Homo sapiens: one gene and its partners. The protein of the gene in region 1 purifies or fractionates together with the protein of each later gene. This does not show direct contact. Each region holds a gene or a part of one and is shown in the gene's direction. Other genes may lie near its edges. The genes, in order: HEPACAM2, NAT14, NDFIP1 and TNFRSF10B.

Region 1 (7,418 bases):
ATATGCTTCTCTGACTCTGTTATTTCTAACCCCTTCAAGAAATTCTGGTCACATTTAGGGCAAGTCTAGTTTAGTTTATTCTTTACCTTCTCTAATCTTAATTGTCAGACTGTTCTTTGTGTGTGAAAATCTGCAATATTTAGAAGTCCCTGAAAGCATCAAAAGAAACAAAAACTGCCAGCCATATTAGCCTATAAAATAAAACCCAAGTCAATAAACATTTCTTGATTGTTGCGCTCAAGGCAACACTAAAATAAGCACTTTGATTAATAATCTATGGTTGTGGTCACAAGGAGTTCACAACTGGGTTTAAAAGCATATCTTAGGGGTGATCTGAGTTCAGTAGATCTCAAACCTGACTGTTCAGATTCACCTGAGGTGTGTGCTGTTATTATTGTTGTTTTCTTTGGGGATGTTTGTTTGTTTAAAATCTTCAGTGATTCTTAAAGGCAGTCCAGCTCTAGCATGTCAAATCCATGCTGTAAAGATGAGAAAACGTATCTGTATAAGGGTTCGAGACCACATATTTCATGAGAGCTTGATCTAGGACTAGAACCCAGATTCAACCCCGGAATTTTCTCCCTCACATACTCAAATACACAAAGTTAAAGATGATCCCCCCAAAAAGTTTTTTTTATCTAATATGTGTATTTCTATTGGCCAAATTCAGAAAAATGAGTGTTATCCCTATCTATTCGACACTGAAAACGCAAGAAAGTATTGAAACTTTGTTTTACTCCAAAACTCTACATTTTAGTTTATTTCCTACAAACTGGAGAAATGGATAAAAATGGATACAGTCTTCTAAATGTTTTAAGGCTATAACTATAATATTGAAAGCTTGTAAAGTAAATCAGCGCTGGTGTCTAAATAAACTATATTTTCTAATTCAGCATACCTTAACACTATATGAAATAATTGAACCTTACGTTATTCATTTCTATCTGTCTACGCTCAAAAAAACAAAAAACTTGGCATCCTAACAAACACTTTTTAAAAGGTTGGACATGCTGCTATTTCCTTTCCAATTTTCAAAAAGGTATTTATTTTTAAGATTTATTCAGGACTTTCACATTTACCTGAGAGCTGTTGTTAGTGATAGTCCAGTGCAAAATAATGGAAAGTTTAGATGGTCTGCCACCAAATCCTGGGGAAGGTTGGCTGGATACCAATTCCTTGGTAAAGGAGTGCAGAGCCAAGAGTTAAGTAAATTGATCTGATTCAGAACAATAGGATTAGTAGTAAAGTAGGATAAGGGCATATTACTAATGGCCCAAAACAGGAGGAATGTCTGGAAGCTTAAATAAAAGCTGAGATCCTGGTTTGATTAGAAAGATAAAATTTCTTACCACTCCACAAATACCAAAGCAGTGGAGAGATGCAGCCCCTCCAAGATGATATGACTACACTTCTTGAGCAGGCCATAACAGAAAACAGAACACTTGCCAAAGGTAAAGTAGTGACCTAAAGAGGTGCCCAGGAAGAAGACATTACTGCTTAGTATTTAGCAGCCATATAAGATAGATCAAGGCTTCCACGAGGCAGCTTTGTAGACTTTACAGAAGTGAACACTAGCACAGGCATAGGCATATGTGATAGCCTCCTCTGGCAGCTAACTCTCCCTGTAAACTGGAGAGAATCCACTAATTACAACAATAAGAAACATTTCTTTCCCCAGTTCTTATTCCCCACTGTTCTGCATCTACATTGACCTTGGCATTTCACCACCTCTCCTTAATTGTTTCTGCCACTGCAAAACATGCGTGTGCTAGCTACTTGTGATTAAAAATGTGGATGTTTGAAATGCATGCAGCAGACATTTACTGTATGAAGTAATACCAGTCTGCAATTTAAATAAACTAGATTGTAAACTGTGTAGTGTGATTTGAGAGGTAATAAAAATCCCTGCCCCCAACAAACATACACACACATACACACACACACACACACACACACCCTCCTGCACAGGAGTATATGTGTCCATATCCCATTGTAAATGCACGTGGACACACACACGCATACTCTATCCCAGTGGCTCCTTACATTGCTTGCAGTTTAATCACCGTGGATATAGATTGTTTTAGGTTAATCAGCCTTCTCATTTTAAATGCAAATATAACTAAGATTGGTAAACAGTAACACTACAGGCCCTTTTTTCCTGACTGGAATGATAACAGCAGAACTTCCCAGTGGGTTACAGGTGTGATGTGAGATATGGATGGTAGGAAAATTCTTATAATTATAAAACCTTCAAACTATTTTTAAGAATCATGTAAAAATTAACAATTGTTGAAGTTAAGCTTGAGCACTCTTTTTCTCACTTCCTGTGTAAACATGTTGAAATCAGAAGTTACTCCAGCAGGTAAGAGTTTATATCTACAGTTTACCACTAGAGGGCGCTTTGTCATGATTATCCCAGTAGCCCTTTCCCTAGATGTGCCGTATTATATTTCAATATGTGCCATGAAATAAAAAGATTACAAGTAAGATTCATATGGCATTTATTTTTTAATGTAGCATCTACTATCACCTTATGTCATGAAACAGGGAATATTTTCAAATACAACAAAGAAAATCTCAGAATAAAAAACTCCTTTATATTGAGTATATTTAACACTAGGGAAAAACACAGTACATTGTCTTTATTTCTCTTTTTGCCAGGGACCCAACAAACTTCATTATAATCCAGCACTAGATTGAAAAACACTGAAAACAGCTAATTTGATAACGGCAATTGGAGATTAATATCAATCTAAAAGATGTTGGGGGAACCTATGTGATATCTGTAGAACTTCCATATTACTTTCCAAATTGTATTTTGTGCAATCCAATATTAAAATTTATTTGTATTTCTTACGCATCAACTGAGAATCGTAAGACGGGCCAAGGAGCACTTAGAGTTTTGTTTTCTGGAGAAACAACTTAACAAAAATACCAGTTAAGCATTATGCTACGTGCCCAACATCCATGAATGAATAAGATTATTCTCTGTATTCGAGAGCTCAGAGGGAAAATAAACATCCAATAAAATAAAGATTAAGGAGATAAGTGCTGCAATAGATGTGTGTACCAGATTTAGAGACAGTGCAGAGAAAGTTGTGGCATTGTTATTATTTTGCAGGGAGGTGGGGGAAGCATGAGGAGCTCTTGCCATTTTTCTGAAGCATGGAGGGATCTGAAAGTGACTGATCTCTGAAGAGGACTTCGTTTTCCCAATAGTCACTTACTTTCTTTGCTTATAGAAGTCCTTCTAGAAGAGTTCAGAGCCCTAATGCAAAGAGTGTTTCCAAACTTGGATTCCAAAGTTACTATCATTCCTTTTTTACTTTAATTATGCTTGAGGTATAGTCTTCCTTCCCCTCTTATCATTGAACTTCTTCAGTGGGCCTTTACTGTTAAAACTGATGCATGCAAGGAATTTTCCTTGATTTGATGATTTGATGCAGATTTGGATATATCCTTAACATTTTATATAACAAGGCTAGAACCAGAGCCTTCTTGCAAATAGGGGTTAACTAATAACTTAGTAAATTAAGCGGACATGCTTAGACTATCTGCTGCCATGACAATGGAGAGACCAGGTTGAAAACCTGTAACCTGGACACTGCAGTAGAGGTAAGATCTTTTCTAGATCATTGGTTCACTTCCTCTATGCATCAGCTGTGAAAATGTGGCCTCAGATACTATCTCCTGGCATGCACTTTTCATTATAATTATGCATGGTCCATGCCTCAGTCCCAGTTGGAAACACACCTGTGATTTGCTTTTAAAAATAAGATGAATTCAAAGATTAAATGAAATCAGTCATTGTAATAGGAAACACTGCATAGAAAAAATACGTTTTAAATATATTCTGGATCTCTCTTTTGATTCATTGGTAGAATTTTTACATGTTAGTGACTTCATGAAGATTTATAACTGTTTAGCAGATACATGAGCTACTTCAATTTTCATATAATTTTTTTTAATTTTAAAATAATAATGGCATAGTTCTGCATGATAGAAAACCAGCTTTTGTTTTTAAGGAAATCTCACAATATTCTTTCATTATGAAAACATGCCATTTTTCAGTAAAGTCACGCAAAAGGATGTTTTCCTTCATGTGATTTTTTAATAACTAAGTATAATTTATGAAATATATAGACAATTACTGGTAGTTGCTAAGAAACTCTTCTGAAAGCCATAAGCCTGTATTCTTGCTAAGCACATAACAGGTGTTCCCACTCCCTGTGTCCTTTGTATACACATTCATTCTGTATTCAAATCACAGAAGCAAGAGGCAAGATAGGGTCTGTTACCTCACTGCTAATTTCCCTAGCAAATAAACCAGCAGCTGCTGGTCCAAGTTACCACTGAGAACAGGGCACTGCATGCATGGGACAGGATGCTTTCATGGAGCCCTTCGGTGACACACTTGGGGTCTTTCAGTGCAAAATATACCTCCTTCTCTTCGGTAAGGCCCTGTGTGAATTGTGTTTTAGCTGTTTGTTAGGTTTTTTTTTTTTAATTGTGGACATAAGGTAAATATTTGCTTTAGGCTGTAGATGCATTCAGATAATTGAAGAGCAGGTCAGAACCTTTTAACAATAACACACTGTTACAGCAAAGAAGCAGGAACATTTAAGAGAAATGAGTTTCAATAAATAGATTGTTATTGTTTTCTTGGAACAACAATTATTGTCATAGCACTCATTAAGATAATTCAGATATTTTTAAAAGATAATGAATTTCTTCTTTTAGAGTTTACATATAGGTTCAATAGTCTTTAATGCATTTATTTCAGCAAATATTCTAATAGGCCATGAAATTGTGACCACTTAGAGTGAAACTACAAATAATTTACGAAAATTGTTTTCTTTTTAATTAAAGATATTGTTGCAAACTGTTTACTGCTTCGTTTTAAGTTATCTGTCTCATCTTATGAAATATGGAAGAAAGGTAAGATTCCAAACTAACAAAAAAATTTCCTACACAAAAGGGAGAACGTATTTGAAAAGATTGTTACTCCAAAATGCCTTTAGCTTTTCTCTTTGCCCAATGGCTAGTCCTATTAAGAATTTTTTTCTACCTTAATATTTTCCCTCATTCTCCTCTTTATCTTTTGAGTTTAAAGGAGTCTCTTTCCAGCATTCCAACTGCTGTCTGTCAACATTATTTTCACCAGATGTTCTCATTTCCATTCTTCCTATTTATCAGTTTTAAAAGTCAAATCAATTTCTTGTTTTGTTTATATTCAACAGATAGGAGTTCAATTAAGGCTACATTTTTTAAAAATTAAGAACAGCTTAGCAAAATAAGCAATTTAACTTTTAGGCTTCTTCAGCTATTTAGAGCTTTACTTTCACTCCTATATTTTGTTAAAGTTTGCATTGTAAATGTTATTATTCAAATTCATACCTACTGTTGTACCTATCTCACACATTTGAAATGTACAGTTTGTAAATTTTTTTAAGTCTTTGAGTTTCCCAGAGTTGTGATTGTTCCAGTTATCACAGTATTTATGTTATCAAATTTAAGCCTATAATAGATTTTTGTTTTCTAAAATTTTTTGAAAAAGTAAATAATTATTATAACTGTCACTACCTTTGTGCATTTGTCTTCCTTTTGAAAGTATCCTGGGTCATCATCCCACTTATTTTTATATTTAAAACAGTAGGACTACTATCATTTTATAAGTGTTGTTTTTGAAACTGGCGTTAAGAAGAACTTAGAGACAATTTAGTTAAGGAATTCAACTAAAATAAAACAAATGTACATTAGGAAAATAGCATGTTCATAAATAGCTAAAGCAGTTTTTATACCTTAAGACCTTCTCTCTTCTGCAAATTTGCTTTTCTCCATAGGCAGTGTGTTGTAAAGACCACAGATGACTTGGCAATCTTTGCTTTTAGGAATATTGAAGTTTTGTTTGCTTCTTCTTTTTAAAAAATTTTTAAAAATTTGAAGCCTAAAATGTACAGTTTGTACAGTTTATTCAAAACACATCATAATTTCTATTTTCTCTAAAGATGCAAGATTTTATTTTCAGTCAACAATACTTGTGTTATGCTTGTTAATACCACACATGATAACAGGGAAGTAAATGCCAGCTATTTTGAGCTACAGCAGAGGTCACTTTGTGAAATCTGATGTTTATATTCAATACAATGAAACCGGTCTAGGGAGTCCTTTGTTGCTGGAATATAGATAAATTCTACAGTAGGACTTCAAGTGTACCTTAACACTGGATACTTTTTTATAGTGCTATTGTCATACAATGTAAGAGGGTCTGTAAAGGAGGGATCATTGCTGCAATTTTGTATGTCAGATTATGATTAGTATTATAAATGTTTCTCCAGATTTGTGTAATGCCTTATATGCAAAAAGTCAAGATTTTTTTAACAGAACTATAATTTATAAGAGTTTTTGTTTGTTATACTCAGAAAGTAATAGTGAATATAATAATAAAATCGAATTTAAATTTCCGTTTAAGTCCAAATATTTGGACTACTAAAAATAAATTTAAATTTCATCAATTTTTATATTATTTATTATTTTTGTTTTTGTATTTTTTCAAATAGAGACAGAGGTCTCGCTGTGTTGCCCAAGCTGGTCTTAAACTCCTGGGCTCAAGCAATCTGCCACCTCAGTCCCCTAAAGTGCCTGGGATTACAGGCATTAGCCACCACAACCAACCTTTTTATATTATTTATTTTCTTGAAGTTTATCTGTTCATGCAGAGGATGATTTTCTAAAATCAATAGGTTTAGTCCTTTGGGTTTTCTCATACAACTAGAAAAGAGCACTTGAAAATTTCTCAAAATGAAGCTAAGTTTTCTCACATTAGTAAACTACTGTGTTTGACAGCATGAATTCATCACATCTGTAGTGGGTGACACATCAATGATAAGAGAGTATGTGTTCCTAGAATGTGGAGGAAGCATTCAATTATCTGTTTATTCCCAAATTTCACTACAAGCAAAGATTGTATCATATTGATAGGTTCATGTCCAATGAAGAGATTTTACGTGGCTGAGATAAGATACTGTATAAAGAAAATTTCATTCCCTGCTGACATTCTTATAACTTGCTACCTATAATTTATCTGATAAAAAATTGTATAGGCAATCTCTAAGCAAATAGTTACTGTAACAGCTGTGCTATTTCTCACTGTCACACAAACATTTGAAAAAGCATACATATTTGAAAAAAACTTTTCATTTAATAAGAAAGCACTGAACCTATTCAGAGATATTGATGGCAATATATTATTTAAGGTATTATTACATGATGCAGTCTAAAATAGACCCCAAAACTAATTTTCCCCTAAATAATGATCACAAACGCTATATTAAATATCTTTTTCTACTAATGTAGTGTTATTTTTTCTCAGAGCTTCAATATTTGTATTGTATTTAATATTTCATTAAATAAAATTT
Region 2 (7,212 bases), on another chromosome or scaffold:
CAGCCTTCTCAGACCTGGCTAGCCTCCTAAGGAGGGTGGCCACAGTTTGCTGGGGAGTTTCCATTTCAGCACTGAAAGTGCAGCATCGCTGGCACCTGCTCAAGTCCCAAGCAAACTGGGACCATTGGAGACCCTCATCCTAAGGAAGGTCCCCTGCAAAGTGGGTGACCTGGGGAGGTAGTCCCTGTCCCTTAAAGAGCCCGTGTGTGGGTTTGGGGTTGAGATGATCCAGTGCGGGGGTGAGCCGCTGACCCAGAATCCCTCCCCCAGGTGTGATGGTCGGCTCCCACGCGGACATGGCGCCGGCCTCTACTGCGGAGGGGGCCGGGGAGAAGCCAGGCCCTGCGGCCCCTGCCCCGGCGGCCCAGTACGAATGTGGGGAGTGTGGCAAGTCATTCCGGTGGTCGTCCCGGCTCCTGCACCACCAGCGCACGCACACAGGCGAGCGGCCCTACAAGTGCCCAGACTGCCCCAAGGCTTTCAAAGGCTCCTCGGCCCTGCTCTACCACCAGCGAGGCCACACGGGCGAGCGGCCCTACCAGTGCCCCGACTGTCCCAAGGCCTTCAAGCGCTCCTCTCTGCTGCAGATCCACCGTAGCGTGCACACCGGCCTGCGGGCCTTCATCTGCGGCCAGTGCGGCCTGGCCTTCAAGTGGTCGTCCCACTACCAGTACCACTTAAGGCAGCACACAGGCGAGCGCCCCTACCCGTGCCCGGACTGCCCCAAGGCCTTCAAGAACTCGTCCAGCCTGCGGCGCCACCGCCACGTGCACACCGGCGAGCGGCCCTACACCTGTGGAGTCTGCGGGAAGAGCTTCACGCAGAGCACCAACCTGCGGCAGCACCAGCGCGTGCACACGGGCGAGCGGCCCTTCCGCTGCCCGCTCTGCCCCAAGACCTTCACCCACTCCTCCAACCTGCTGCTGCACCAGCGCACGCACGGCGCCGCCCCCGCCCCGGGTACCGCCTCCGCGGCCCCGCCCCCCCAGTCCCGGGAGCCCGGCAAGGTCTTCGTGTGCGACGCCTACCTGCAGCGGCACCTCCAGCCCCACAGCCCGCCCGCGCCTCCCGCCCCGCCGCCCCCGCCCCCGCCCGTGGTGCCTGAGCTCTTTTTGGCGGCGGCGGAGACCACGGTGGAGCTGGTGTACCGCTGCGATGGCTGCGAGCAGGGATTCAGCAGCGAGGAGCTGCTCCTGGAGCACCAGCCGTGCCCCGGGCCCGATGCGGCGCCCCAGCCCCAGGAGGCACCCGCCGAGGCGCCCAAGGCCGACCAGCCACCGTCCCCTCTGCCGCAGCCCCCTCCTCCCGCCGCCGCCCCCGCGCCTGGCTTTGCCTGTCTGCCCTGCGGCAAGTCCTTCCGGACGGTGGCTGGGCTCTCCCGCCACCAGCACAGCCACGGGGCTGCCGGCGGGCAAGCGTTCCGCTGCGGCAGCTGCGACGGCTCCTTCCCGCAGCTGGCCAGCCTCCTGGCGCATCAGCAGTGCCACGTGGAAGAGGCCGCGGCCGGGCGCCCGCCCCCGCAGGCTGAGGCTGCGGAGGTGACCTGCCCCCAGGAACCGCTGGCGCCTGCCGCCCCCGTCCCGCCGCCACCCCCGTCCGCCCCCGCTTCTGCGGAGCGGCCCTACAAATGTGCCGAGTGCGGCAAGTCCTTCAAGGGCTCCTCCGGGCTGCGCTACCACCTGCGGGACCACACGGGCGAGCGGCCCTACCAGTGTGGCGAGTGCGGCAAGGCCTTCAAGCGCTCCTCCCTGCTGGCCATCCACCAGCGGGTGCACACGGGCCTGCGGGCCTTCACCTGTGGCCAGTGCGGCCTCACCTTCAAGTGGTCGTCCCACTACCAGTACCACCTGCGGCTGCACTCTGGCGAGCGGCCCTACGCCTGCGGGGAGTGTGGCAAGGCCTTCCGCAACACGTCGTGCCTGCGTCGCCACCGCCACGTGCACACTGGCGAGAGGCCCCACGCCTGCGGTGTCTGCGGCAAGAGCTTCGCGCAGACCTCCAACCTGCGGCAGCACCAGCGCGTGCACACGGGCGAGCGGCCCTTCCGCTGCCCGCTCTGCCCCAAGACCTTCACCCACTCCTCCAACCTGCTGCTGCACCAGCGCACGCACTCGGCGGAGCGCCCCTTCACCTGCCCCATCTGCGGTCGCGGCTTCGTTATGGCCGCCTATCTGCAGCGGCACCTGAGGACGCACGCCCCGGCCAACACGCCTCCCAGCACCACAGCCCCTGCCGCCGGCCCCCAGCCCCCTGCTCCACTGGCTGCTGCGCGGGCCCCGCCAGCCACCCAAGATGTCCACGTCCTGCCCCACCTCCAGGCCACGCTCTCCCTCGAGGTGGCGGGGGGCACGGCCCAGGCCCCGAGCTTGGGGCCAGCAGCGCCCAACTCTCAGACGTTCCTCCTGGTGCAAACTGCCCAGGGCCTCCAGCTGATCCCCAGCAGCGTGCAGCCCCCTACACCTCCGCCCCCTCCCGCACCTCCCAAGCTCATCCTGCTGCCCTCCTCCAGTGCTGGGGCTGGGGGCGGCCGTGCAAGGCAGGGCCCGCGGGCAGTGGGGAAAGCGGGCCAGGGGGCGGGAGTGGTCTGGCTGCCAGGCCCTGGGGGTCTAGGGGTGCAGGGAGCGGCCAGCGCTGGGGCCAGCGGGACAGGGCAGAGCCTCATCGTTCTGCAGAATGTGGGGGGTGGGGAGGCAGGGCCACAGGAAATGAGTGGGGTGCAGCTCCAGCCCCTCCGACCAGCCCCAGAAGTAACCACGGTCCAGCTCCAGCCAGCGCAGGAGGTGACCACAGTCCAGCTCCAGCCAGCACAGGAAGTAACCACGGTCCAGCTCCAGCCAGCACAGGAGGTGACCACGGTCCAGCTCCAGCCCGTGGCCGGCCAGCTCTCCAATTCCAGTGGGGGAGCTGTGGCTACTGAGGCACCCAACCTGCTGGTTGTTCAGAGCGGGGCAGCTGAGGAGTTGCTCACTGGCCCGGGCCCCGGGGAGGCGGGGGATGGCGAGGCCAGCACTGGTGTGGTCCAGGATGTCCTCTTTGAGACACTCCAGACGGACGAGGGCTTGCAGAGCGTGCTGGTGCTGAGCGGGGCCGATGGCGAACAGACTCGACTCTGCGTACAGGAGGTAGAAACACTTCCTCCTGGGCTGACGGAGCCGCCTGCCACCGGCCCACCCGGACAGAAACTCCTCATCATCCGCAGCGCCCCAGCCACTGAGCTGCTGGACAGCAGCAACACTGGAGGAGGCACCGCCACGCTGCAGCTCCTGGCCCCACCGCCGTCAGGCCCAGCCTCGGGCCCCGCGGGGCTCCCCGGGGCTCCAGCCTCCCAGATGGTGCAAGTGGTCCCCGCAGGAGCTGGGCCTGGTGTTATGACCCCTCAGGGCCTGCCCTCCATCCAGATTGTCCAGACTCTACCCGCAGTCCAGCTGGTGCACACGTTTTGAGGAGAGGCAGTGATTCCCCTCCCGCCCCGCACAGAGACCCCGACTCACTGCCAGCCGGGGCGGGGCAGGGTGCCGCAGGCTGGGCTTGCTAATAAAGACCCGAGTCTCCCCGCCTGTGTTTTGTTTTCCTGGGGGGAGGGAAGGGGGCAAAGTCATGGTCCTAGCCCCCGCCTGGGAGCGTGGAGTCTTAAGTCTTGCGTCCTGGGTCGCAGATGGCTTGTTCTGCATCCTGGGGCCAGCCACTACGTAGGGCTCAGTTCCCCTGTCCTGAAACCAAAAAAGGCCGCAGGGGTCATTATAGTGGGGAGGTGGTGACATCAGACTCCAGGGAGTGCTACTTGTTCACTGTAGGTCGCCCCGCTGCCCCCCTCGTGTGAGAAGTAGGGGGATCCTTATGCGGAAGGGTTCTGCGACCCCGGGCGCCCCGTGGGTGGAGTGGGGTCCCTGGGGATGGGGGAGTCGGGCGCCAGGATGCTGAGCGTGGCCGGCTCCTCCCGCGAAGGCCCCGGCACGGATGAGAATCCACGCGCTGGCGTCGCCGCCCGGCGCTCAGGTTGCTCAGCAACGAGGGAACGTGGGGCGGGAGCTCGCGCTGGTCCCCAGCCCGCCGCCCGTCTCCTGCCGGCTTCCGCTCCCGTTCTTCCCCAGGTCCCCTTTCCCCGTTGCTCCTTCTCTAGGGATAGGAGAGGTCGCTTCCCGGCCCTCCGCAGGGTCACAGCTCGGTTCCTCCCAGCCCGCCCTCCGGGGAGCTTAGCAACGGTTGCTACGGCCCGGAGCGGGCGCCGCCCCGCCCCACCGCGCGCGGTCTGACGTCACTTCCGCCCGCGACCCCCTTCCAGACCCGCTCCCGAAACCTTGTCGAAGGACCAAAGGCGACCGGTGCAGGTGCTTGCTGGTCCTTGTTCTTGTGGCGCGGGACGGGGACGACTGTGGGGGAGGGGGCGCTGGGGACCGGGGTGGAGCGAGCGTGGTCCGTTCTCTGGCATGTGGGGAGGGTGTTCGTGGACCCCAGTGCCTGGGAGGGAGCCCCGTGCTGCAGTGTTGGCGTCCGCAGCGCGTTTGGGAGTGTAGATCGCTGAATAATACGGGGGAGGGGGGATCCCGGGAGACTTTAGCAAGGTCGCTGAGTATTGTGGGGGGCGCCTGTCCTGCCGAGATCCTCGCTTGGGGGCCCCGAGGGTTCTCAGTGTCCTGATCTGGGAAGTGCCGTTGCTGCTCCCTACCCCTCGGGGGAGCTTTGGGGACAGAGGTGCCCCCCTGACGCTGACCTACTTATGTTCTCACCAGGTGCACGACGCCAGCTCCCTTCTGGGGGGCCGGGGCCTGGGGGTTGCCATGGCCCCCAGCCACCTGTCAGTGCGGGAGATGAGGGAAGATGAGAAGCCCCTGGTGCTGGAGATGCTGAAGGTGAGAGGCAGGGGCCCCAGGGGGCCTGGGAGTGGCTGCAGTGGGGGAATTGCAAGTGGATTCAGCCACCCCCTCCCACCCACCTGAGCCAGCCTGGACCCCTGGAGCGGGATCTTTTCCTCCTGAGCCTCAGCCGCCCTGCTGCTGAAAACCACAGCAGGTGTGGCAGGTGGGGGCTCACCCCCCCAGCCCTACTGGGACCCCAGCACCAACGCCCTCCCTGGTCTCCCATCTCCAGTCGGCTGTGCACGCCAGCACAACAGCCAGCTCTGTGCCTCGGACCCCAACTCTTCAAAGCACAGCCCAGCACCCCAACCTAGCCCAGCAGCCTCCCTCCAGCCTCCACTCCAGCCTGAGGCAACCTCCCTGTCCTTACTTCCCTGGGGCCTCACTGCGGCATTGCTACTGAATTGAGTGCCCCCACAGCTCCTAATTCACTCATCCATCCATCATTCGCTCTCGTTCATTCATTCACTCCATACCCAGTGTGCCACACTGAACATCGGACTGTGCTGCCTTCCCTTCCCATTTGGGAGCTCTCACCCCGCCCCGGGCAGGGTCTACCTCCTCTCTTTGTCCAGGAGGCCCTAGCGTTTCGGATGGCTGAGCCACCCCTCCTGCCCACAGGCCGGCGTGAAGGACACGGAAAACCGCGTGGCCCTCCATGCCTTGACACGGCCGCCGGCCCTGCTCCTCCTGGCGGCGGCCAGCAGCGGCCTGCGCTTTGTCCTGGCTTCCTTCGCCCTGGCCCTCCTCCTGCCGGTGTTCCTGGCTGTGGCCGCCGTGAAGCTGGGCCTGCGGGCCCGATGGGGCTCGCTGCCTCCGCCGGGTGGCCTGGGGGGCCCCTGGGTGGCCGTGCGGGGCTCCGGTGACGTGTGTGGGGTCCTGGCTCTGGCCCCTGGCACAAATGCAGGGGACGGGGCCCGGGTCACCCGCCTGTCTGTCTCTCGCTGGCACCGCCGCCGGGGCGTGGGCAGGAGGCTGCTGGCCTTCGCGGAGGCCCGGGCTCGGGCCTGGGCTGGGGGCATGGGGGAGCCCCGGGCCCGGCTCGTGGTCCCCGTGGCTGTGGCCGCCTGGGGGGTGGGAGGGATGCTGGAGGGCTGTGGCTACCAGGCCGAGGGGGGCTGGGGCTGCCTGGGCTACACGCTGGTGAGGGAATTCAGCAAAGACCTGTGAAGCTACAGACTGACAGCCAGGGCAGGGGAGGAGGGAGGGGCGCCAGCACCTGATGATCGCCTACTGTCTGCGGGTTCTTTTACCTGCTCTCCCTCAGTGAGTCCTCAACCACCCTGGGCCCAGAAACAGAGGCCTGCCGAGGGGAGGAGCCTGGCCTCTGTCCACCCGTCAGCAGTGTGAAGTCTGTTGTGTTTGAGCTTCTCAGAGTGGAATGACTCCTTTTCCTTCCTGGCCCTCGGGGGCCTCTCGAGGTCAGCCTCTCCAACCCCTACCTCAGCTCCTGTCTGCACTGAGAAACCTCCCCGGGTGATGTCTGCAAAGTCTGTGCTGTCCGTGCCCCAGGCTGGGAGAGCTATCTGGGGAGGGGGAGAGGAGGCCGAGCAGAATACACCCCAGAGTTAGGGTTTGCGACTCCGCCTCCCTGGGACCTGGATTGGGTCAGATGCCTGTCCTTGGAGGGGACAAGGTTGACTGCTTAGGAGGCGCGACGCACAGGGCTGCCAGGCCTGGCCCCTCTCTGGGAAGGTTGAGAGCTGAGACGGGCAGCCCTGTCCCTTCCTCCAGATCCGTCTGGTTTTTTACACCGTTTGTTAATAAAGCCTGAAACCGCTGTGTGCCTGTCTCTTCTCTGATGGCTTTCCCAGTCTGTCTCCGGACACCCCCGCCCATTTCTGTCTGGCTTCTCCTTTCCCCAGTTAACATTAATTGTTGGGGGACGGTGCTGGACTGGGAGAAGGGGAGGCTGTGAGCTCAGGGGCAGCCCGAGGCCCTGCCAGCCCTTCTGAGTCACGCTCCCCATTACCGAATTTTTTCCGCCTCACAGCTGCCTGGTGTGCAGGCAGTGGGGTGTGTGTGTGTGTGTGTGAGTGTGTGGAAGAGTGTGTGGAGCCCCTCCCCTTCCCAAGCCTTGACCCTTGTGCTGCTTATCCCCCGACCCCAGCTCCCTCTGGGACAGTGAAGTTCAACCTCTCCTCTCTCAGCTGGGGACTGGGGGCTTCACACTCAGATCCACCAGTGAGTGGGAGGACTGGAGGGCCGGGTCTTTCAGTCTCTTTTCCTAACCCAGGAAGTCCCTCCTGGTGTCTGGCTGCAAATCTTCTTGCTGCTGCACCAAGAACCCCAGGTCTGCCCAGCCCCCAACCCTAGCAGTGGTCTCACTGGATTTCCCTGACCAGACAAGAGGGGA
Region 3 (7,177 bases), on another chromosome or scaffold:
GAAGCAGAAGCACACTAATGTTTCCTTGATTCTGCACACTTAATATTTTGCTGTTGGGTGGATAGCTGCTAGGGAGGTCTAGGAAGAGAATAAATATATGCAAATTTGTAGAATTAAACTCATAAGAGGGATCTTCACATTGATTTAGATGAACTCCGTTCTTCCAGCAGTCCAGATCATGTCATTTGTGGGGACATAGTGAGTTCAGATTCCATCTAGCCTGATGTTGATTCATGGAGGTGGAGATTGGGATGCCATATAAACCAGTGGAGATTATTGGGCACTCTTGGTTCTTGATGTCAGATATGTGAGTGCTGCATTTGTCATTTTGTAAATATTCATCCAGATTGAGGCTGATGAAGGTAGGGCATTGTGGGAGAATGGAAGCAGGATAAGTCCCCAGAAATGCGGGGACCATCAGGCCTCTAGGCTCTATTCTAGCAAGTAACTGGAGTGAGTGATGAGCAAGTACAGAAGCCTAGTCTGGGCAGTGTGATGGCATAGGCCCAGATGTTCCCCTCTTGGCTTTAAGATAGTAGACAGTTTGCAGACCACACCTACTGTGAGGAGCGAAGCTCCTAAAATCATTGCTTGGTAGAAATAGTTTATGAGCCCAATCTAGGATGATCCTAAATGGCGATGATGTGCATTCAGTTCTTACAGGTACCAGGGAGAAACTAAAAACCCTAGTGTCTAAGGGCAAGACCATCATAATGTAACTGCCGTATATTGGAAGCAAACCACATGCTTGGTACTGTGCTTGATGCTTTTATATATTTTGTATATTGTTTCCAATCTTCATAGTAACCTTGAAAGGTAGAGATTATATTATCTCCATTTTACAGATGTGAAAATTTAGGTCCAGAGAGAAAAAGTAATTTTCCCAAAGTCATATGACTGATAAGTAGCAGAAGTGAAAGTCAAACCCAGATATTCTAGAATCCAAAGTCCTTGTTTGTTTCACTGTACTCTGCAGATCTGTTGCAATATATGGTAAATAGATCAGTATGGAAATTAGCTCTGATTAATCACATAACTCTTCAGAATACTTTCATTTGATACAAGTACATATTTAGGAACTTCTTAAAGGGCTCTAGTATTCAGCAGACATGTATAAAGCACTTTTTAAATATAAGATGCAGTATATTTTACAGTGGATAGGTAAAAAGCTTTGTATAAGGCAGTGTTCCTCATTGTTATTCAAAAGCCTAAAATCCAACTAGGGTAAAGGGCCCACAAATACTGATAACTAAGACACATAAGAGCAGTGGGCATCAAGAACTGAAACTTTTTACTGGGTGATCATAGGGGAAAATGAGATTTGATGTGGGCCCGGAGTTTTGATGGGTAAGAACATTCCAGAGGGAAAAAGGCACAGAAAGCAGGTGTGAATTCAGCCAGGTGAAGGCAGTTCTGTGGATGTAGTAATTGGCTTTGTATGAGCAAGAGTTTGTGAAGGGAGATAGAAAGTCCTGACTACAACTGTTGTTTATAGAATCTTTGGAATGTTAGATGGGCGTATTTAAACTTCATATGTAGCTTTTAGAGAATCCTTCAGAGTTTTTGAGCAGGGGTATGAGAGGACTTGTGTGGTGTTTTGGAAACATTAACTTGGCAGCAATTTCTAGGATGCATCATGGTAGAAGAGATACCAAGAGGACAGGAAGAACAGTTAGAAGGTGTTCGTAATATTATTAGATGTTACTTCCATATATTTTTTGGAGTATATCTTTGAATAGTTATGCAAAAAACAATTAGCTTTTAATTTTGGCAAAACCTTATTCTGCTGATACGAAGTAAGAATACTAGGTATTTAATGTTTTAAAAAATTAATTATAAAAATTCGTTTTTATAGAAATTTCAAACAATAGAGGAAGTATGTTAAGTTAGAAAAGGAAGCTGCCATTGCCACCGACTTCCCTTTCTCTAGTTCCCACTCCCCAGGGGAACCACTGTTAACAATTTGGGTCTTCCAGACCCTTTTCTGTGTACAACAAGTTTTGATATTCCCTAAAATATTTTTCATTTAAGGAGCCCTCATTGAACTGTGTACAAATCTATCACTTTTAAGTATATATTCAATTATTTTTAAATATCTCAACACACACCTATATCAGTTAAAAAGATAGCCCACATGTGTTGGTATTGTTCATGATCATGTTATTTCTAGTTTTGCAATATTACGTTATCAAGTTAGGATGGAAAAGATCTTATCTGCTGATAAGGTTAGAAGTGAGATTTAGATCTGTATACCAATACAAATACATGCTTATGGAGTTGAGCAGTGGGCAGTTCTGTGGACTATTCATGTATGATCGTACTATTCTTTTTTCCCCTATATCAGCCTCGTAAAGCACTTGAGCTGGTTGATTTTATCTTTTTTTTTTTGAGACGGAGTCTCACTCTGTTGCCCAGGCTGGAGTGCAGTGGTGGGATCTTGGCTCACTGCAAGCTCTGCCTCCCGGGTTCATGCCATTCTCCTGCCTTAGCCTCCCGAGTAGCTGGGACTACAGGTGCCCGCCACCACTCCCGGCTAATTTTTTTGTATTTTTAGTAGAGACGGGTTTCACCATGTTAGCCAGGATGGTCTCGATCTCCTGACCTCGTGATCTGCCTGCCTTGGCCTCCCAAAGTGCTGGGATTACAGGCATGAGCCACTGCACCTGGCTGATTTTATCTCTAATTACTAATATTTTAGGTCCTAAACAGGTCCTCGATTACTGATATTCTAGAATTTAAACCAAATGTGTAAGTAAATTTTGTCTTTTGTCTTTTCTTGAGGTATATTTTTTTAAAGGAAGAGTAAATAGTTCTTTGTGAACTATTCTTGAAGTGTATTGTTTTTGAAGTGTATTAAATTTTTGAAGTGTATTGTTAAAGAACTTGGGTTATAAGATGAAAATTTCATTTAGAACACTGGGGATAGAAGAAAGATTTGCTTCTTTTCTAATTATATATTAATAATGCAAAATGGAATTTTAAACACACATTGAGCCTTTAATGCTCATAATTTTGAACTGAACCAAAGCAATAACTTTTTTCCTTGCTACTCAAATTTAACCCTTCATTTTTCTTTATGTCTTCCCTTTGCCTAGAAATAATTCTTTTTCTTTTCATTTAGGATGAGGATTTTGTGGGTCGGGATGATTTTGATGATGCTGACCAGCTGAGGATAGGAAATGATGGGATTTTCATGTTAACTTTTTTCAGTAAGTATGTATGCATATCAGAACCACCCCCTACAAACTAGAGTGCTTTGGATTATGGGTGAATCTGACTGAATTAAAATAACTAGTTGAGCTAATATATTAATACATTATGTTTATTTGGTGCCTTTTACTGGAATATTCAAAGCTTAATATACCTTTGTTTTAATATCCCTTCTCTTTGCCTTCTATTTTCATGAATATCTGTGGAAAATATAATTAAAGCAGTTATGAGGATGCTGCATTTTTACATGAGCTAAGCCTCATCTTCCAGGTCTACGGGGCCCTTTTGCGTTGCTTCTACTCATACTTAATCTGTAGAATAGGAATTAAATGCCTTTGATGAATTTTGCTCTGAAAGCTTCTTTTTTCTGACAGATCAAAGTCAGCCTGATTTTCTCCCTTCATGTTACTTGCCATTTATCTTTTTGTGTGCCTCACATAGAAGTGAGCAACCATTTCCTTTATTTGTTGTATTAGAAAGATAAGAAAATGCAATGCTTTTAGAGGTGATGTTATATAAGTTGTCAAAATTCAGAGAACAGGAGGATGAGTGACTTGAATCAGATTATTTGGGGGCACTTATTTAATGTTGAAGGCATTTATTTTATTTACTGGACTATATATATATAACACACACAGTAAAAAGCAGAGGTCAGGCTGGGCATGGTGGCTCATGCCTATAATCCCAGCACTTTGGGAGGCCGAGGCAGGCAGATGCCCTGAGGTCAGGAGTTCGAGACCAGCCTGGCCACCATGGTGAAACCCCATCTCTACTAAAAATACAAAAATTAGCTGGGTGTGGTGGCAGGCACCTGTAATCCCAGCTACTCAGGAGGCTGAGGCAGGAGAATCGATTGAACCCGGGAGGCAGAGGTTGCCGTGAGGTGAGATCGCACCATTGCACTCTAGCCTGGGGGACAAGAGTGAGACTTCGTCTCAAAAAAAAAAAAAAAAAAAGAGGTCAAAGGCTGGGCACAGTGGCTCATGCCTGTAATCCCAGCACTTTGGAAGGCTGAGGTGGGCGAATCACCTGGGGCTAGAGGTTCAAGACCAACCTGGCCAACATGGAGAAACCCCATCTCTACTAAAAACAAAAATTAGCCGTTAGCCGGGCCTGGCGGTGCACGCCTATAGTCCCAGCCACTCGGGAGGCTGAGGCAGGAGAATCACTTGAACCTGGGAGGCAGAGATTGCAGTGAGCCAAGGTCGTGCTACTGCACTCCAGCCTGGGTGACAGAGTGAGACTCAGTCTCAAAAAAAAAAAAAAAAAAAAAAGCAGAGGTTGTAAGTATACAGTTTGGTGAATGTTAAGGTTTGCTTTTTGCTGTTTTTTGTTTTTTTTGCTTTTTCCTTTTGAGACAAGGTCTTGCTCTGTTGCCCAGGCTGAATTTGGAGTGCAGTGGTGTGATCACTTCTCAGTGTACCCTTGACTTCCTGGGCTCAAGTGATCCCCCCACCTCAGCCTCCCAAGTAGCTGGGACTTGCAGGTGTGCACCACTGTGCCCGGCTTTTGTTTGTTTGTTTGTTTGTTTTGTTTTTTTCAGTTTTTGTAGAGATGGGTCTCACTGTGGTGCTCAGGCTGGTCTCAAACTGCTGGGCTCGGGATCCTCCAACGTTGGCCTCCCAAAGTGCTAGGATTACAGATGTGAGCTATTGTGCTCAGCCTATTAAGGCGTTTTTGAAAGTGACTAGCAGTAGACATAAGTGTGTAAAACCTGATAGGGAGGAGTTTTTCTTGTTTGCTTTTTGGGGAAAGACAGAAGAATGGATGTTTTAGAGGAGGTATGGTGACGGTTGTGGAGGACAGGCTGTCTTTTATCCTTTGGAAAGTCATTTAAACAGAGGCAGGTGTAAGGCACTCTTGTTCTTGGGTAACAGGACATGTCTAACATCTTTCCCCTCCTCTGCTTTTGCAGTGGCATTCCTCTTTAACTGGATTGGGTTTTTCCTGTCTTTTTGCCTGACCACTTCAGCTGCAGGAAGGTATGGGGCCATTTCAGGATTTGGTCTCTCTCTAATTAAATGGATCCTGATTGTCAGGGTAAGTTGTATAACAGAAAAGATGGGCTCTACAGAGAGGCAATAATCAGAATATTTTTGAATATTCGATTTTTCATTTGCTTTTTTAAAAGTTATTTCAGTGTGTTAAATGATTTTTGGTTTGTCTGTGGTTTCATGATGAAGCTGAACCAAAATCATTTGCAAATGGTTCATGCACACAAGTTTTGTTGTCAAATCTATTGAAAACTGGTCTATCATTAATATTGTTCACCATCTGCTTTGTTTGTTTTTAATGTTTATAATATGATAATGTATATGTTCTGAAATTAGTTGTTTTTATAATAAAAGGAAGGATATTACCCCTTTGATATCTCATCAAAAGCAGCCATTCCTCTCATTAATTCTGTTACAGTTTTAATCTAGCTCTCTTCTTCCTTCTTTTCTTTTCTCCTTCTCTTCCCCTCTCCCTTCCAGGATTGCTTATGCCAAAATGTTTGGGGAGCCAAAACTGTTTAACAAGTATTGCTCCATTAGGAGCCTACCTCTCAAGTAAATTACAGAGATGTATGTCTTTAGTGACTTCAGAGTTACCAGTTAGTTAAATTTGCATGAAGTAATTTACAGTTGTAAAAGATCTAGGCTTTTAAAGTATCCTCTGATTTCAGATAAATTTATTGCTATCGTCAACCTTATAAACAAAACCAATTTATCCGTCATAAATTGGCATACTTAACTAACTAATGGGTGTTGCTTGACCACTGTAGTTTTTCTACGTAGTGCCACCTTATTTATTATAAAACATTTGTTAACGTTTTTAGGGTTCCAGAATCCTTTGGGAATCTGATGAAAGTTGTAAGCTTTTCCCCCACATAGCTAATATGTACTCATCTATAATAATGGACTTTAGGTTAAGAACTCGAGCCCTAAAGAGGTTTTCATTCCTTCCCTAAATTTTAATTGTTACTTTATTAACAAAGAAAATACTATATTTTACTTTTCGAACTACATTAAACTCTTGGACACCAAAGCCTCCAAGGAAAAGAGAAATAAAATTAATTCCAGTCTTTTTTTTTTTTCAAACTAAATTTTCAACTGCATTTAAAAAGTGAATCAAATGGGCCGGGTGCGGTGGCTCACGCCTGTAATCCCAGCACTTTGGGAGGCCGAGGCGGACAGATCACGAAGTCAGGAGATCGAGACCATCCTGGCTAACATGGTGAAACCCCGTCTCTACTAAAAAAATACAAAAAAAATAGCCAGACATGGTAGCGGGGGCCTGTAGTCCCAGCTACTCGGGAGGCTGAGGAAGGAGAATGGCGTGAACCCAGGAGGTGGAGCTTACAGTGAGCCGAGATCGTGCCACTGCACTCCAGCCTGGGCGACAGAGCGAGACTCCTTCTCAAAAAAAAAAAAAAAGTTAAATGAATTAACTTGTATCAGGTAGGATGCTTTTGACTGTGAGTAACAAAAACCTAGCTCAAAATGGCTTAGAAAAAAATTTTTAATTGTTTTTTTAAACGGGGAAATTTTATTTCCCCTGAAAACAAGTCCCTGACAAGGTTAGTTAAGTCAGTGGTTCTTTGACATCATCAAGGACAGCTGACATATCAGCATATTGGCACAGGTCCCCCCTCCCCTCAGGGTTAAAAGATGGCAGTTTCACGTATCAGTATTACATTGAAACACGACAGTGCTCAAGAGAAGAAAAAGAACTATTTAAAAAAAAATTTTCTACCACCTTTAGAAAGAACTGTTTTTTTCTTTGAGAAGCAAGGAAAGCTTCTCAGAAGCCCTCAATTTCCACTGGTCAGAATGGCATCCTGTGCCCATTCCTAAACCAGCAAGGGAAGGGGATTACCCTGGTATACATGATAAAGCTTCCAAAGTCAAGACAAGGCTGGAGGAGTAGGAAGAAAATCAGGCCTCATTAGAAAGAAGGCAATGGTATCATCTACTCAGGAGGCTGA
Region 4 (7,596 bases), on another chromosome or scaffold:
CAGTGAGCTAAGATCATGCCACTGCACTCCAGACTGGGCGACACAGCAAGACTCTGTCTCCAAAAAATTAAAAAAAAAATAATAAAGTATTCAGGGATAAAGAGAGAAAAATAAATTTAGATTGTATACATATGTAAAATATATTTTAAAAGGTAAGCTTGTCTTTTTTATTCCTTAAAGGAGCAGATATTAAAAAAAAAAGAATAGAATAACTCATCTTTTTAGCCTCCACATATTTACTTGCTTCTTCCCAAGTTACTTGGTCTAATTCAGTATATAAGTAACTGACTCTCACTGCTTTTTCTGTGCCATGTAAAACTTGCATTGTATTAATTTGTGTGCTTTTCTCCTGTGGACCTGTCTTATGTCAACTTAATTCTCAGGCCCAGCCAAAAAAAAAATACCCTTAAAGGGAGCTTAGCTTGCCTCCATGACCCTCAATGGTGGCTGTAATCAAACCACATCTTCCAGGCAAACAATACCACATCCTATGGCCTTGCAATGGCATGGCCTCCCTCCAGCACAGCCTCTCTGGAGGAGGGGGAGGCAAGGGTGGTGAGATCTCAGGCCTCCCTCATGCTACCTCCTATTAGTTATATGACCCCTGGTGTCACCTCTCCCACCACACTGTAGGCTCCAGGGAGTAGGATTCACATGGGGTTCATTTGTCCTCCCTGCCTTCAGCAGACTCCAGGCACAGGTGTTCCCAGAGTAAAGGGCTCACTGTCTGCTTCCTGGGTGAATCATTCTCCCCGCAAACCCATGAGGTGAGTGCAGTCGTGGCTTCAGCTCACCGCCTGACAGGCTCCAGGCTGTAGCACAGGGAGGGCCCTGTGGACTCTGCTGAGGAACCATACGAGCTCCCAGAGGCCAAGTGCAGGACAGAGAATAGAGAAGCAGCTGCTCAGAGAACTCTAGCCCTGTAGAGGTGCAAATATGGCTGCTATTATACAGAAGGTGAGGCCAAAAATGCTGGAGACACTGCTCCTGAATCTCAGTTTTGCCACTTGTAAAACAGGGAAAACAACCTACTCTCATGTCCCCAGGTTGTTAGGAAAATCCACTACATGAAGATGTGCAGTCTCTGGCTGGGAGCAGGACACCAGCTGCCCAACAGCACAGGCTCAGGGCATGGCACTGTCTCCACTGTCCCCATCCCCAACCTGGAAGCTAGAGCCTCGCTGCCCTGCCACTTCTGGATGCAGGACAGAGAACCGGAACTGGGACTGTGGTCTCTCAGTAGAGGCTGTGAACAGCCATCTGTGGCCACACGGATTGAGACCTTTCCTGCTCACTCTTCAAACTGGGGCACCGGCTGGGTGCCCAACAGAAAGACAATTGGAAGAGTGGCAGGTAAACCAGGCTGTGGCCCTGCAGTGCCATCACCGTCCTCATTTGAATTCTGGCTCGTCTGTTCCTCTACGGCCCCTCCGCATGGCGCTCCACCCCAGTCTTCAGAAATTTCTGCCTCAAGCTCAGGGAGCTGGTACTGAGGTACAGGTAGGAGAAGGTGCAGCCTCTGCTGAGTGGAGGACATGTGCCCTGGGGATCCAGAGTCTAGAGTGACTGACACCAGCCCTGCAATTTGTCCTCCTAGACCTGTTAACAGAGCCTGCAGAAGTTTACACAGGGCTGCTGAAGATTTTTATCCCCTCATTTTACAGGAAGGAGCTGGGGCCATACCAGAGTCAGAGCTGGACCGGGAGCACGGCAGGGCCCAGCCATCCACAGCCTCCAATTTCAGTACTCTCTAACAACCTGAGAGCCTGAGCCTTCGGATCTTCTTGATTCCTACTTTGATAAAGAGAGGGATGGGGTTGGAAGGACCTGGCATAGAGATTGGACCAGTCCGGCATTGACAGAGCCAGGACCTGGGGTCCGGAACTGAGCTCAGCTCCAGGCTCATCTGAAGTCACCCTGACAGCCTGAGGATGGAGACCTTATTTCCATTAACAGGCATGGCGGTTGGCAGGGACTGGCCCCAGCTGAGCACGGTTTTCCAAGTACACAGCTGGGAATTAAGTCTTCTCTGCCGCCCTCCCCTGTAGTCTTGCCTGGATCCCCCCAGTCATCTACTCCCAGTACCAAAAACTCCTGTATTCTTGAAAATCCGTAGTACTGAGAGGTGACAGCTTGCTGGCAGTCCTCAACAGCCCTCGCTCGCTCTCGGCGCCTCCTCTGCCTGGGCTCCCACTTTGGCGGCACTTGAGGAGCCCTTCAGCCCACCGCTGCACTGTGGGAGCCCTTTTCTGGGCTGGCCAAGGCTGGAGCCCGCTCCCTCAGCTTGCACGGAGGTGTGGAGGGAGAGGCGCGAGCGGGAACCGGGGCTGCGCGCGCGGCACTTGCGGGCCAGCTGGAGTTCCGGGTGGGCGTGGGCTCGGCGGGCCCTGCACTCGGAGCAGCCGGCCGGCCCTGCCGGCCCCGGGCAATGAGGGGTTTAGCACCCGGGCCAGCGGCTGCGGAGGGTGTACTGGGTCCCCCAGCAGTGCCGGCCCACTGGCGCTGCGCTTGATTTCTCGCCGGGCCTTAGCTGCCTTCCCGACGGGCAGGGCTCGGGACCGCCATGCCTGAGCCTCTCACCCCCTCCGTGGGCTCCTGTGCAGCCGGAGCCTCCCCGACGAGCACCTCCCCCTGCTCCAGGGCGCCCAGTCCCATCGACCACCCAAGGGCTGAGGAGTGCGGGCGCACGGCGCGGGAGCACGGCGCGGGACTGGCAGGCAGCTCCACCTGCAACCCCGGTGCGGGATCCACTGGGTGACGACACCTGGGCTCCTGAGTCTGGTGGGGACGTGGAGAACCTTTATGTTTAGCTAAGGGATTGTAAATACACCAATTGGCACTGTGTATCTAGCTCAAGTTTTGTAAACACACCAATCAGCACCGTGTGTCTAGCTCAGGGTTTGTGAATGCACCAATTGACACTCTGTATCTAGCTAGTCTGGTGGGGCCTTGGAGAACCTTTGTGTCCACACTCTGTATCTAGCTAATCTGGTGGGGAAGTGGAGAACATTTGTGTCTAGCTCAGGGATTGTAAACCACCAATCAGCGCCCTGTCAAAACAGACCACTCCGCTCTACCAATCAGCAGGGTGTGGGTGGGGCCAGATAAGAGAATAAAAGCAGGCTGCCAGAGCCAGCAGTGGTAACACTGTGGAAGCTTCCTTCTTTCCCTCTGCAATAAATCTTGCTACTGCTCACTCTTTGGGTCCACACTGCCTTTATGAGCTGTAACACTCACCTTGAAGGTCTGCAGCTTCACTCTTGAAGCCAGCGAGACCACGAGCCCACCAGGAGGAAAGAACAACTCCAGACCCACTGCCTTAAGAGCTGTAACACTCACTGGGAAGGTCTGCAGCTTCACTCCTGAGCCAGTGAGACCACGAACCCACCAGAAGGAAGAAACTCCGAACACATCCGAACATCAGAAGGAACAAACTCCAGACACGCCGCCTTTAAGAACTGTAACACTCACCGCGAGGGTCCGAGGCTTCATTCTTGAAGGCAGTGAGACCAAGAACCCACCAATTCCGGACACAGTACCATGAAGGAATGAAAATACATAACAATGTGATGTATCATGTTTTATTTCCTAGACTAGTGACAAATGAAAGCTAAGTGTAGCAAGGGTGCAGGGACACAGGCACATTTGTGGACTAGGTGTGAGTGTAAGCTGGGTTCGATGGTCTTTTGGCCAACATAGTGAACCCCTGTGTCTACTAAAAATACAAAAATTAGCCAGGCGTGGTGGTGCAGGCCTGTAGTCCCAGCTACATGGGAGGCTGAGGTGGGAGTATCGCTTGAACCTGGGAGACGGAAGTTGCAGTGAGCCGGGATCACACCACCGCTCACCAATCTGAGCCACAGAGAGACTGTCTCAAAAAATAAACCACAAGGAAGGGAGGTAGGGGGAGGGGGAGGGAGGGAGGAAAGAGAAAGAGAGAAAGGAAGGAAAGAGAAAGCAGGAAGGACGGAAAGAAGACGAAAGAACGAAAGAAAACGAAAGAAAAAAGGAAAGAAGAGAGAAGGAGAGAACAGAAGGGGCAGGTGCCCCTGGGAAGGGGAGAAGATCAAGACGCGCCTGGAAAGCGGACTCTGAACCTCAAGACCCTGTTCACAGCCAAGCGCGCGACCCCGGGAGGCGTCAACTCCCCAAGTGCCTCCCTCAACTCATTTCCCCCAAGTTTCGGTGCCTGTCCTGGCGCGGACAGGACCCAGAAACAAACCACAGCCCGGGGCGCAGCCGCCAGGGCGAAGGTTAGTTCCGGTCCCTTCCCCTCCCCTCCCCACTTGGACGCGCTTGCGGAGGATTGCGTTGACGAGACTCTTATTTATTGTCACCAACCTGTGGTGGAATTTGCAGTTGCACATTGGATCTGATTCGCCCCGCCCCGAATGACGCCTGCCCGGAGGCAGTGAAAGTACAGCCGCGCCGCCCCAAGTCAGCCTGGACACATAAATCAGCACGCGGCCGGAGAACCCCGCAATCTCTGCGCCCACAAAATACACCGACGATGCCCGATCTACTTTAAGGGCTGAAACCCACGGGCCTGAGAGACTATAAGAGCGTTCCCTACCGCCATGGAACAACGGGGACAGAACGCCCCGGCCGCTTCGGGGGCCCGGAAAAGGCACGGCCCAGGACCCAGGGAGGCGCGGGGAGCCAGGCCTGGGCCCCGGGTCCCCAAGACCCTTGTGCTCGTTGTCGCCGCGGTCCTGCTGTTGGTGAGTCCCCGCCGCGGTCCCTGGCTGGGGAAGAGCGTGCCTGGCGCCTGGAGAGGGCAGGGAGAGAGGGGGACACGGCGGGGGTGCGTGGCCCGGGTCGCCTGCGGCCGGGCATGTCCGGGCAAGACGCACCAGTCGTCGGAGTCGGGGGAAGAGATGGGTCCCCGGGTTGGGCAGGAGCGACCTGGGCCGCCAGGGAACAGAGCGCGCGCTCCACTTGGTGTAAATTCCCGAATCCAGTGGGGGAGGGCGACAAGGAGGGAATTCCCGAGTAAGCTGCGTGAAGCCACGGAGAGGTCGTCGGACTTTGATTTTGTTTTCTTTCCTTACTTTCTGTTTCTTTCTCTTTTTCTCTTTCTTCCTTTCTTTCCCTCCCTTCCTTCCTCGCTCAGTTCCTGCCTTAATTTCTTTTTCTTTTGCGCCTTCGAATGAATTCCTAAAGGCGCTCATTGCAGATCGCTTTGAACCTGCGGCCGGCGAAGAACTCCCCTGTGGTCGCTGCGGCCCAGTGGTTCCGTTCCGTGCGCGGGAGTCGTCGCGGGCGCAGCTGGAGAGGCCCCTTCCCCTCCTTAGCGGCTGCGCCCCTACGCGTGCGGGGCCGCTCATCGCCAATGCCATTGTTTGGGGTTCCTTGGGAAAACGAGATTTAGGAGAAGGGAGTTGTGGCACTTGGGGCCTGACCTGCTTGATAATAGCAGCTGCATTTTGGCCTGGGAAGAGCCTTTCTTGCCACCTCTTGGCAAGTATCCGTGATAATGGGGAAGGGACAAAGAGTCGGCTTTGTAGGGAACAGCATGGTGTGCTCAGCGCCTGGAACTGCGCTTGGGGCCAGGAGAGGTTCTGAATCATCACATTTTACAGAGGAAGAGACCGCAGCTCAGAGTGGGGAAGTGTGTGGGCCTAGACCTAACTCAAGACTGTACAGAGGGGCTGGAAGGGAGAGGAGGAACAGTGAAAGGAAGGTCAAGAGAATGCTGGTGTTGACCTAGAAGAATGTCAGTGTGAAGCATTGGAGTTTCATGGGATATTGTTACACACCTCATGTTTTCACTGTTTCCGCCCCACACCACAGTATGTCCTTGGTCTCACCTCTGAGTGGAGGGAGGACCTAACTGTCCTAGTGAGGAGAGTGTACAGGGGCCTCTGCCTCCCCCTCCTGCTGTGGTTTCTGTGGGCCTAGGTCCCCAGGGCATCTTGCCTCTCTTTGGGTGGTGGATCTTTGGTCTCTGGCTGCTTTTAAAGATTTTTCTTAGCACTGGTTTGCAGTGATTTGGTTTGTTTGCTCTGTTGTGGGGTTTTTTTTTTATCTCTATAAAGAATTTTTTGGATTTTTGGCTTTAGACTTTCATGTTCTTTCTACTTGGAAGATTTTTCTGTAAAGAAAGCCACAACTGGGTTGTGTTGAATTTCTTGGATTTGGGGTTTTAGAGTTTATGTTCTCCTTGGAGACTTTTCTGTAAAGAAAGCCACAACAGCCGGGTCTGGTAGCTCATGCCTGTAATCCCAGCACTTTGGGAGGCCGAGGCGGGCAGATCACATGAGGTCAGGGATTCGAGACCAGCCTGACCAACATGGTGAAACCCCGTCTCTACTAAAAATACAAAATTAGCTGGGTGTGGTGGTGGGCACCTGCAATCCCAGCTACTTGGGAGGTTGAGGCAGGAGAATCACTTGAACCTGGGAGGCAGAAGTTGCAGTGAGCAGAGATGGCGCCACTGCACTCCAGCCTGGGAGACAAGAGCAAGACTCCAACTCAAAAAAAAGAAAGAAAGAAAGCCACAACAGAGTTATGTTGAATTTCTTGGATTTGGGGTTTTAGAGTTTATGTTTTTGTTTGTTTGTTTGTTTGTTTTGAGATGGAGTCTTGCCTCTGTCGCCTAGGCTGGAGTGCAGTGGTGGGATCTCAGCTCACTGCAACCTCTGCCTCCTGGGTTCACGCCATTCTCCTGCCTCAGCATCCCGTGTAGCTGGGACTACAGGCATGCACCACCACGCCCAGCGAACTTTTTGTATTTTTAGTAGAGACGGGGTTTCACCGTGTTAGCCAGGATGGTCTGGCTCGTGATCTGCCCGCCTCAGCCTCCCAAAATGCTGGGATTACAGGGGTGAGCCACCACGCCCAGCCGAGTTTATGTTCTACTTGGAAGATTTTCAGCCATTATTTCTTCAAATACTCTGTCTCTTCTGGTGACTGAGATCTTATTATATTTACGTTAGAATGTTAGATTTTGTATCAGAGCTAACTTAGTATCTGTTCTTTTTTTTCCCCCATCATTTTCTATGTTTCACTTTGGACATTTCCCTGTGAGGGCTCTTCAAGTTCATTGATCTGCTTCTGCAGAATCTAACCTGCTGTTAATCTCATCTACTGTATATCAGATATATATTTTTTGAACTTTAGAAGTTCTCTTTTGGCATTTTTAATATCTTCCATCTATTTCCTGGTCATCTTTGTGTTTTTCTTTTTTGAGACAGGGTCTTACTCTGTCACCCAGGCTGGAGTGCAGTGGCACAGTCAGAGTTCACTGCAGCCTCAACCTCTTGGGCTCAAGTGATCCTCCCACCTCGGCCTCCCAAGTAGCTGGGACCACAGGCACTTGCAACCACACCTGGCTAATTTTTGTATTTTTAGTAGAGACGGGGTTTCACCATGTTGCCCAGGCTGGTCTCAAACTCCTGCGCTCAAGGAATCCTCCCACCTTGTCCTCCCAAAGTATTGGGATTACAGGCCTGAGCCACCGTGCGCAACCTATGATTTTGGTGGTGGTGTTTTTTGTTTTTCTGTTTTTTAAATATTCTTGAGTATATTTGTAAGCTTTAGATGACCTGTTTTAAGTTATTTAATCTATCAACACCATTATATCTGTTATTACGG

The links.
Region 2: the proteins of HEPACAM2 (region 1) and NAT14 purify together in Homo sapiens (affinity purification with mass spectrometry; 3 studies listed by BioGRID and IntAct, with this or other methods). This does not show direct contact.
Region 3: the proteins of HEPACAM2 (region 1) and NDFIP1 purify together in Homo sapiens (affinity purification with mass spectrometry; 3 studies listed by BioGRID and IntAct, with this or other methods). This does not show direct contact.
Region 4: the proteins of HEPACAM2 (region 1) and TNFRSF10B purify together in Homo sapiens (affinity purification with mass spectrometry; 3 studies listed by BioGRID and IntAct, with this or other methods). This does not show direct contact.

Annotation. Positions count from the first base shown.
Region 1 is NC_000007.14:93,223,403-93,230,820, reverse strand, and holds the start of HEPACAM2 (HEPACAM family member 2 isoform 1 precursor), read left to right. Parts: upstream 1-4,351; 5' UTR 4,352-4,374; coding exon 4,375-4,453; intron 4,454-4,869; coding exon of another isoform or gene 4,870-4,938; intron 4,939-7,418. UniProt on the Homo sapiens protein: Required during prometaphase for centrosome maturation.
Region 2 is NC_000019.10:55,480,931-55,488,142, forward strand, and holds NAT14 (probable N-acetyltransferase 14), read left to right. Parts: upstream 1-4,257; 5' UTR 4,258-4,328; intron 4,329-4,730; 5' UTR 4,731-4,778; coding exon 4,779-4,850; intron 4,851-5,477; coding exon 5,478-6,026; 3' UTR 6,027-6,636; downstream 6,637-7,212. Other genes in the region: ZNF628 (zinc finger protein 628), read left to right, coding at 271-3,443. UniProt on the Homo sapiens protein: Probable acetyltransferase. May act as a transcription factor that regulates the expression of coproporphyrinogen oxidase by binding to a promoter regulatory element.
Region 3 is NC_000005.10:142,132,609-142,139,785, forward strand, and holds part of NDFIP1 (NEDD4 family-interacting protein 1), read left to right. Parts: intron 1-3,121; coding exon 3,122-3,209; intron 3,210-5,125; coding exon 5,126-5,250; intron 5,251-7,177. UniProt on the Homo sapiens protein: Activates HECT domain-containing E3 ubiquitin-protein ligases, including NEDD4 and ITCH, and consequently modulates the stability of their targets. As a result, controls many cellular processes.
Region 4 is NC_000008.11:23,065,876-23,073,471, reverse strand, and holds the start of TNFRSF10B (tumor necrosis factor receptor superfamily member 10B isoform 1 precursor), read left to right. Parts: upstream 1-4,440; 5' UTR 4,441-4,577; coding exon 4,578-4,721; intron 4,722-5,051; exon of another isoform or gene 5,052-5,243; intron 5,244-7,596. UniProt on the Homo sapiens protein: Receptor for the cytotoxic ligand TNFSF10/TRAIL. The adapter molecule FADD recruits caspase-8 to the activated receptor.